Homo sapiens: one gene and its partner. The protein of the gene in region 1 purifies or fractionates together with the protein of each later gene. This does not show direct contact. Each region holds a gene or a part of one and is shown on either strand. Other genes may lie near its edges.

What was found. Proteins that work in one complex are often made in the same cells at the same time.
Region 2: the proteins of CCDC6 (region 1) and PPP4R2 purify together in Homo sapiens (co-immunoprecipitation; 4 studies listed by BioGRID and IntAct, with this or other methods). This does not show direct contact.

The regions. Positions count from the first base shown.
Region 1 is NC_000010.11:59,794,853-59,798,609, reverse strand, and holds part of CCDC6 (coiled-coil domain-containing protein 6), read left to right. Parts: intron 1-3,757.
Region 2 is NC_000003.12:73,055,805-73,059,561, forward strand, and holds part of PPP4R2 (serine/threonine-protein phosphatase 4 regulatory subunit 2), read left to right. Parts: intron 1-3,232; coding exon 3,233-3,326; intron 3,327-3,757. UniProt on the Homo sapiens protein: Regulatory subunit of serine/threonine-protein phosphatase 4 (PP4). May regulate the activity of PPP4C at centrosomal microtubule organizing centers.

The DNA of each region.
Region 1 (3,757 bases):
CTTTTCCCAGATGAGTAAAGTTCTTGTGATTCCAGTAAATATCACATTAAAAAACCACTTAGTTCCCAAAGACTTGTCCTTTATCCCAGACCTCCATTTTGTAAATGTGAATAAAAACTCCACAATTGGAAATGGAAATATGTCAAATAGAAAGCATCACTAATTCATAGTCAAATCACAAAATAAACTTTTAGTATTAGATGCTGAGGGCACAGAAAAGTCCTGCGATAATAGCACAACTAAAGGAAGGCTTGGCTGAATATCTCTGTCATGGAAACAAAAAAGACAGATGGAAGAGCATACTTAACAGCTTCTTGTTTTTACGTAATTCAGAAAAGCAGTAAGTGGAGTTCACATTGCTTGGCCTCTAATAGCTGATAGTATGTTCAGAGTAATTGTCAATAGGTGATTCCTATCCACATTTCCCCAGACAGCTCCTCTGTTTTCCCTTTTCACTTTGCCAGTATGGAACCTACCCTGTGCAAGGTATTGTGGTAGATGTTGGGAACTCAAAGGTGTAAAGAAAGCTAGCCACATTTGTGCAGTGATAAAACAAGTAATTCCCCAGACCGGCTGGTGACTTCTGCACTGACTCTTGACGAGCAGGGCTTCACATGCCACATGTAGGTGAGGATCGCTTTTAGATGTTCTCAAAATATGGACCCCAATCCAAACCTGTCTAACAGTAAGGAGAGTCTGGACATACAGATGTTAAAACACAGTGGAGATGATCCTGGACTCCTACATGAAGACTACACAGAACATTATATTGGACTGGGGATTGTTTCTTCCTTAAATACCAGGTTCTTTTAGGGAACATTGGCAGGGCTTTCATTCCTTGTATTGAATATTCTCAAGTCGTGATATTCCCAGTGGTTTTGTTTGCTGTTATGGCTGAGACACACACACACACACACACACACACAACACTCTCACTCTCTCTCTCTCTCACTCACTCATGCCCACACTCTCCCTGTCTTCTTCTTGTTGATTTTTTTTTTTTTTTTTTTTTTTTTTTTTTGCTAGGAGGTTCAGTTCATTGGCTACTTAATATCTATCTCCAGTTTGGTCAATTGTTGATACATCTTTTGACATTTCTGGTTTTCTTGCATTTGATATTTACTCCTTTGCTCGATTTTCTCCACTTTATTCTTGTTCTTTCTCATGTCTTTTGCTTTCCTGAATCTCAGTTGAATTCCTGACAGGGTTTGACTTAAAAAAATCATTATTGTGGTGAGACCTCTCAATATAAGATCTATCCTCTTATTTTTAAGAATACAATACAGTACTGTTAACTGTAGTATAATGTTGTGCAGCAACTCTCTGTAGTTTATTCGTTTTGCTTAACTGAAACTTGATGGCTGTTGAGCAGCAGTTCACCGCCATTCTACTCTGTGTCTATGAGATTGGCTATTTAAACTCCTCATATAAGTGGAACCAGGCAGGATTTGTCCTTCTGTGACTGGCTTATTTCACTTAGCATAATATTCTCGAGGTTAATATATGTTGTTGCATATGGCAGGATTTTCTCCTTTTAGACTGAATATTCCTTTATATGTCTATATATATCACATTTTCTTTATCTGCTCATCCGTTGATGGACAGTGAGGTTGTTTCCACATTTTTTTTTTTTTTTTTTGAGATGGAATCTGGCTCTGTCGCCCAGGCTGGAGTGCAGTGGCACGATCTCAGCTCACTGCAAGCTCCGCCTCCCGAGTTCATGCCATTCTCCTGCCTCAGACTCCCGAATAGCTAGGACTACAGGCACCCGCCACCATGCCCAGCTAATTTTTTTGTATTTTTTTTAGTAGAGACGGGGTTTCACCATGTTAGCCAAGATGGTCTCGATCTCCTGACCTTGTGACCTGCCTGCCTCAGCCTCCCAAAGTGCTGGGATTACAGGCGTGAGCCACCGCTCCAGGCCTCCACATTTTTGCTATTGTGAATAACACTGTAGTGAATATGGGAGTGCTAATATCTCTTTGAGATCCTGATTTCAATTATTTTGTATAAATACCCAGAAGTGGGATTGCTAGATCATGTGGTACTTCTAGTTTTAATCTTTTGAGGCATTTTCATACTGATTTCCATAGTGGATGCACCATTTTACATTCCTACCAACAGTGTATAAGGATTTTTTCTCCGTATCCTCACCACCACTTGTTACCTTTTTTTTTCTTTTATACAACCTACAAATTGGGAGAAAATTTTTGCAACCTACTCATCTGACAAAGGGCTAATATCCAGAATCTACAATGAACTCAAACAAATTTACAAGAAAAAAACAACCCCATCAAAAAGTGGGCGAAGGACATGAACAGACACTTCTCAAAAGAAGACATTTATGCAGCCAAAAAACACATGAAAAAATGCTCACCATCACTGGCCATCAGAGAAATGCAAATCAAAACCACAGTGAGATACCATCTTACACCAGTTAGAATGGCAATCATTAAAAAGTCAGGAAACAACAGGTGCTGGAGAGGATGTGGAGAAAGAGGAACACTTTTACACTGTTGGTGGGACTGTAAACTATTTCAACCATTGTGAAAGTCAGTGTGGTGATTCCTCAGGGATCTAGAACTAGAAATACCATTTGACCCAGCCATCCCATTACTGGGTATATACCCAAAGGACTACAAATCATGCTGCTATAAAGACACATGCACAGGTATGTTTATTGTGGCACTATTCACAATAGCAAAGACTTGGAACCAACCCAAATGTCCAACAACGATAGACTGGATTAAGAAAATGTGGCACATATACACCATGGAATACTATGCAGCCATAAGAAATGATGAGTTCATGTCCTTTGTAGAGACATGGATGAAATTGGAAATCATCATTCTCAGTAAACTATCGCAAGGACAAAAAACGAAACACCACATGTTCTGACTCATAGGTGGGAATTGAACAATGAGAACACATGGACACAGGAAGGGGAATAACATCACACTCTAGGGACTGTTGTGGGGTGGGGGGAGGGGAGAGGCATAACATTAGGAGATATACCTAATGCTAAATAACGAGTTAATGGGTGCAGCACACCAGCATGGCACATGTATACATATGTAACTAACCTGCACATTGTGCACATGTACCCTAAAACTTAAAGTATAATAATAATAATAATAAAAATGAATAAGAAAAAAAATAATAATGGCCAACTTAACAGTTATGAGGTGATATCTCACTGTGGTTTTGATTTGCATTTCCCTGATGGTTAGTGGTGATAATCGTCTTTTCATATATCTATTAGCACATTTGTGTATCTTTTTTAGAGAAATGTGTATTCAAGTTCTCTGTGCATTTTTTCATTGGACTATTTGAGTGTGTTTGTTTGCTTTGAGTCATAGGAGTTACTTATGTATTTCGCATATTCACCCCATACCAGGTATATGGTTTGCAAATATCTCCTCCCATTCTATAGGTTGCCTTTTCAGTCTGTTGACTGAAAGTTTCCTTAGCGCAGACACTTTTTAGTTGAATGTAGTCCCACGTATTTGTTTTTGCTTTTTTTTTTTGTTGCCTATGTCATATCCAAGAAATCATTGCTAAGATCAATGTCAGGGAGCTTTTCCCCTATTTTCCTTCTAAGAGTTTTATAGTTTAAGGTCTTATAGTTAAGTCTTTAATCCATTTTGAGTTGACTTTTGTATATAGTGTAAGAGATAAGGTCCAGTGTCACTCCTCTGCATGTGAATATCCAGTTTTCCCAACACCATCTGTTGAAGAGACTGTTCTCTTTCCCCGT
Region 2 (3,757 bases), on another chromosome or scaffold:
ATTACAGGCCAGGCTGGTTCTTGAACTCCTGACCTCAGGGGATCGCCTGCTTCGGCTTCCCAAAGTCCTGGGATTACAGGCGTGAGCCACCGTGCCTGGCCCAGGGTTTTTTATTTTACAGTATAACTTTGCTAATGAACATCTGATCACCACTTCCCCCCAAATTTAAGGATTTCTGAATAGACTTTTCATTGAGAATGAGTGGCATGTGTGTTTAACGCTCCTCTCCCTATATTTGCTTTTCTTAGTATGTGTGGGAAAAGCCTTAATATTTTCAGAAGTTAGAATAAACTATTTTGTATGCTATGTCTAATGGATGAGTATCAGAGAGCAGAGCTTTCATATACTTGTACCAAATGCTTTCATTTTGTACTGGTTTTTCTGGTTTATTCTTGTGCCTCCTTTTAGAGGCCTACCTCACACTAAGTTTTCCCAGTGTCACGCTTACTAAGCTTGGCATACAGTTTATTCTGTCTCCATGGCACTTTTTATACAGTGTTGTTATTTATTACTGTAATTGTAATTATTTACATGTCTTTTGACTGCTGTTGAACAAGGTTGGTATTTCTAGTTTATAATAGGCTCTTATATTTATGGAATAAGTTTAAAAGTACAGTCTGTATGTAAAGAGACCTTTCAATGCTGTTACGTTCATTTATCATACTAATATTTCCAGTGGATCCATTGATTTGCAGAAAGTGTTTGGTTGGGATTTAGCCTGTCGTGTGAGAAAAGGAAGTGTTGTGTGACATTTTAGTGCCATCTATTGGATACTTGGTAAAATGACTTTTAAAGCTTCTTTTACTTTTTGAAATAAGGATCTTTTGAAAAAAGCTTCTGAAATTGTCTAAGAACTTAAACTCGTTTTATCATTGCTGGTATTGCTATGTAAACACATACCCCCCTCCCAAAGCAGTATTAATATTAAACAACACATAAAATATTAATAATTGGCTACAATTTAACTTACATTTCTAAAGAAAATTAGCCAAAGCATTCAGTGTACATGTTGTTAAACAAGAAGTTTTAAAATATTCATCTGTTAAAACTAATTTTAATTAGTGAGAAAACATTAGGTTTTAATGTGGGAAAGAATTTTAGTAGGAAGAAAAAGCATAATGACTAGACAGTATTTTTCAGTTAAGTACTATTTGAATACCCAAACACTTGTTGAATACCCAAACTGTTGGTGCTATTTTGTATATTTTGAATAATAAATTTTAATGACAGTATCACTATGGGGTGATTAATGAGGAAATAGCTTAGGTGTGTTGTGTGTGTAAGGTTTGAAGAGCCATGAACTAGAAGAGGAGCTAAGGTGAGTTATACCACTAATCTGAAATCCACGATAATACTGGGTTTCACGGACAGACAATTGAGAAACTAATACTGTTTGTTATACATGTGGAAAATGCTTAAACATTTTTAAAGTAGAGTTAGTTTTGTGTATTAGCTATAGATTTCTAATGGTTGTCTTTATAGGAATGAAACAAAAGATGTATAAGCTTATTGTTTCATACTTAGTAACGCTGTTGGTGTGCTTTGTACTTCCCCATTTAAAAGGATTCTTCATTTTGACATTGTACTTCACTCTGAGTAGATTTTCAAAAGCAAAAAAGTATTCTTCCTCAGAAACCCAGAGGAATTTCTAGTTGCTTCTGAATGTTTGGAATATCAGGCAAACATTTAATCTTTTATTCTGTGCCTTGTCTTTTGGTAGAACAGTTTTCTCACTTTTAGGTTTGGATTCGATTTTAGGTTTGAGACAAAAGATTGATTCTTGGACTCTCAAATTTATCTAAAAACATTTGTTCTCATATGAATAACATGCACTTTAAGCACTTTCAGAATTTTTTGCACATCTTATACTTTGAACATAAGAATAGTATTGACACAAAGAATATGAGAACCAAATGTAGTTTATCCAGTTAGAAAATAAACAACTATAATTTTGTAAAATACGTGTGGTACAATGGAAAGGACATGAGATTTGAAGTTAGAGAGACTGAGTTTGAGTCCTGGCATTTTAACTCACTAACTACTATACCTTGTGGTGGAAGAAAATTCTGTATCACACTGCCTATAAAAAATGAAGACCTTTGTGAATGTTAACTATTAATTTGAGGCTTTGTAATTCTTTTCATTAAAGAGAATAAATAGATTGGTATGGCAGACACTGAAGTCTGAAGATTTGTTTGTATTTGTTAGCTGCGTTTGTCGTACCTCGTGCTCATAACTTTGCTGTTCTGTTCAGCTTGTAATTCTTATGAATGCTAATAGCTACATGAGCTCAAAACTTAAAAATATTTATAAAATGATTTTAGTTCCAACTTATATCAGTTTTGTATTTACTGTGGTCAAGGAAAAATTGAGGTATAGTGAAATTATTTGGTAAAGTTAAATAAAAGTTGTGTATATTTTAAGTTGGATTAAACTTAGATTATATATGAAATTGCAATAATGGAGCAGAACCACATTTAAAATATTTGTAGTTTTGTTTGAACATTTTAAAGAAACCTTTGAGTGCAGAAGAATACTTGAGGAAAAATACATATATTAAATAACCCCCAACTTGATTATTATTTGTGTTACCTCTCTTGTAAACTTAAAAATCAAATTATCAGGATTTAGAATTTTCTATTATATAAAAATTTTTTCCTCAGTTTTGAAGCTTTCTGTTGATTTTGGGTGTTCTAAGTTGCTTTTTTTTTAAAAAAGAATTTCTGTTGGTAAATAGTAGGTTTACATATTTATGGGGTACATGAGATATTTTGATAGAGCCATACAATGCATTATAATCACATCAGGGTAAATGGGTTATCCATCACCTCAAGCGTTTCTTTATGCTTTGTGTTACAAACAGTACACTTATACTCTTAGTTATTTTAAAATGTACGATAAATTATTGTAGTCAACCTGTTGTGCTATCAAATACTAGATCTTATTCATTCTAACTATATTTTTGTACCCGTTAACCATTCCCCCCTCCCTCCCCCCCCACCTTTATTGCTTTTTAAAGGAAGGGAGAATGGTTTTTTTGTTAAATAGAAAGGTATGCTTATTTTATTGTCTTTTTTTAAATGACTCATCCATTTATTTCCCTATTATAGCATTTTCTTTTGTAGCTTAATACATGGGTGACTAGATACAGCTTTACCTAGCAAAAGAAATAATGTTCCTCGTTTTCTTGATTATCAGTGATCTCACACTGTAAAATTATATTTTTTTGCAGTATCCCTTTTACTATTCAGCGACTATGTGAATTGTTAACAGATCCAAGGAGAAACTATACAGGAACAGACAAATTTCTCAGAGGAGTAGAAAAGGTATTTATTTTATTATTGGAATTATATTATGCTGTGGTGTAATAGCTTTTATTTTAGAAAAGAACATTGAGTAAGATCTGTTTCGGGTACCACTTCTTGAAATATGTTTTTCAGCCTACCTTGAGTTTCCCAAATTGTTTTCCAAATTGCATTCTGTTTTACAGAGAGATTTAATAGGACCGGGTAGAGGAGGGTTTGTGTGTTGGTCATTGAAGTTTGGTGAAAGCAGCTTATTATTTCTTGGAAATTCATAGTGTATATCAACTTATTAAAGGTTCTGTGAAGTTATAATTGCTATTTTAACTTTATAGAGTGTTTTATAAACTTACACATGGAATTCATTTTCTCAATTCTGGAGTTCAAAGGTACATAACTTTGGAAACTTACTGGTGCCAAGCATGTAAATGAGGTATTGAGTAGAAAGATGCAGG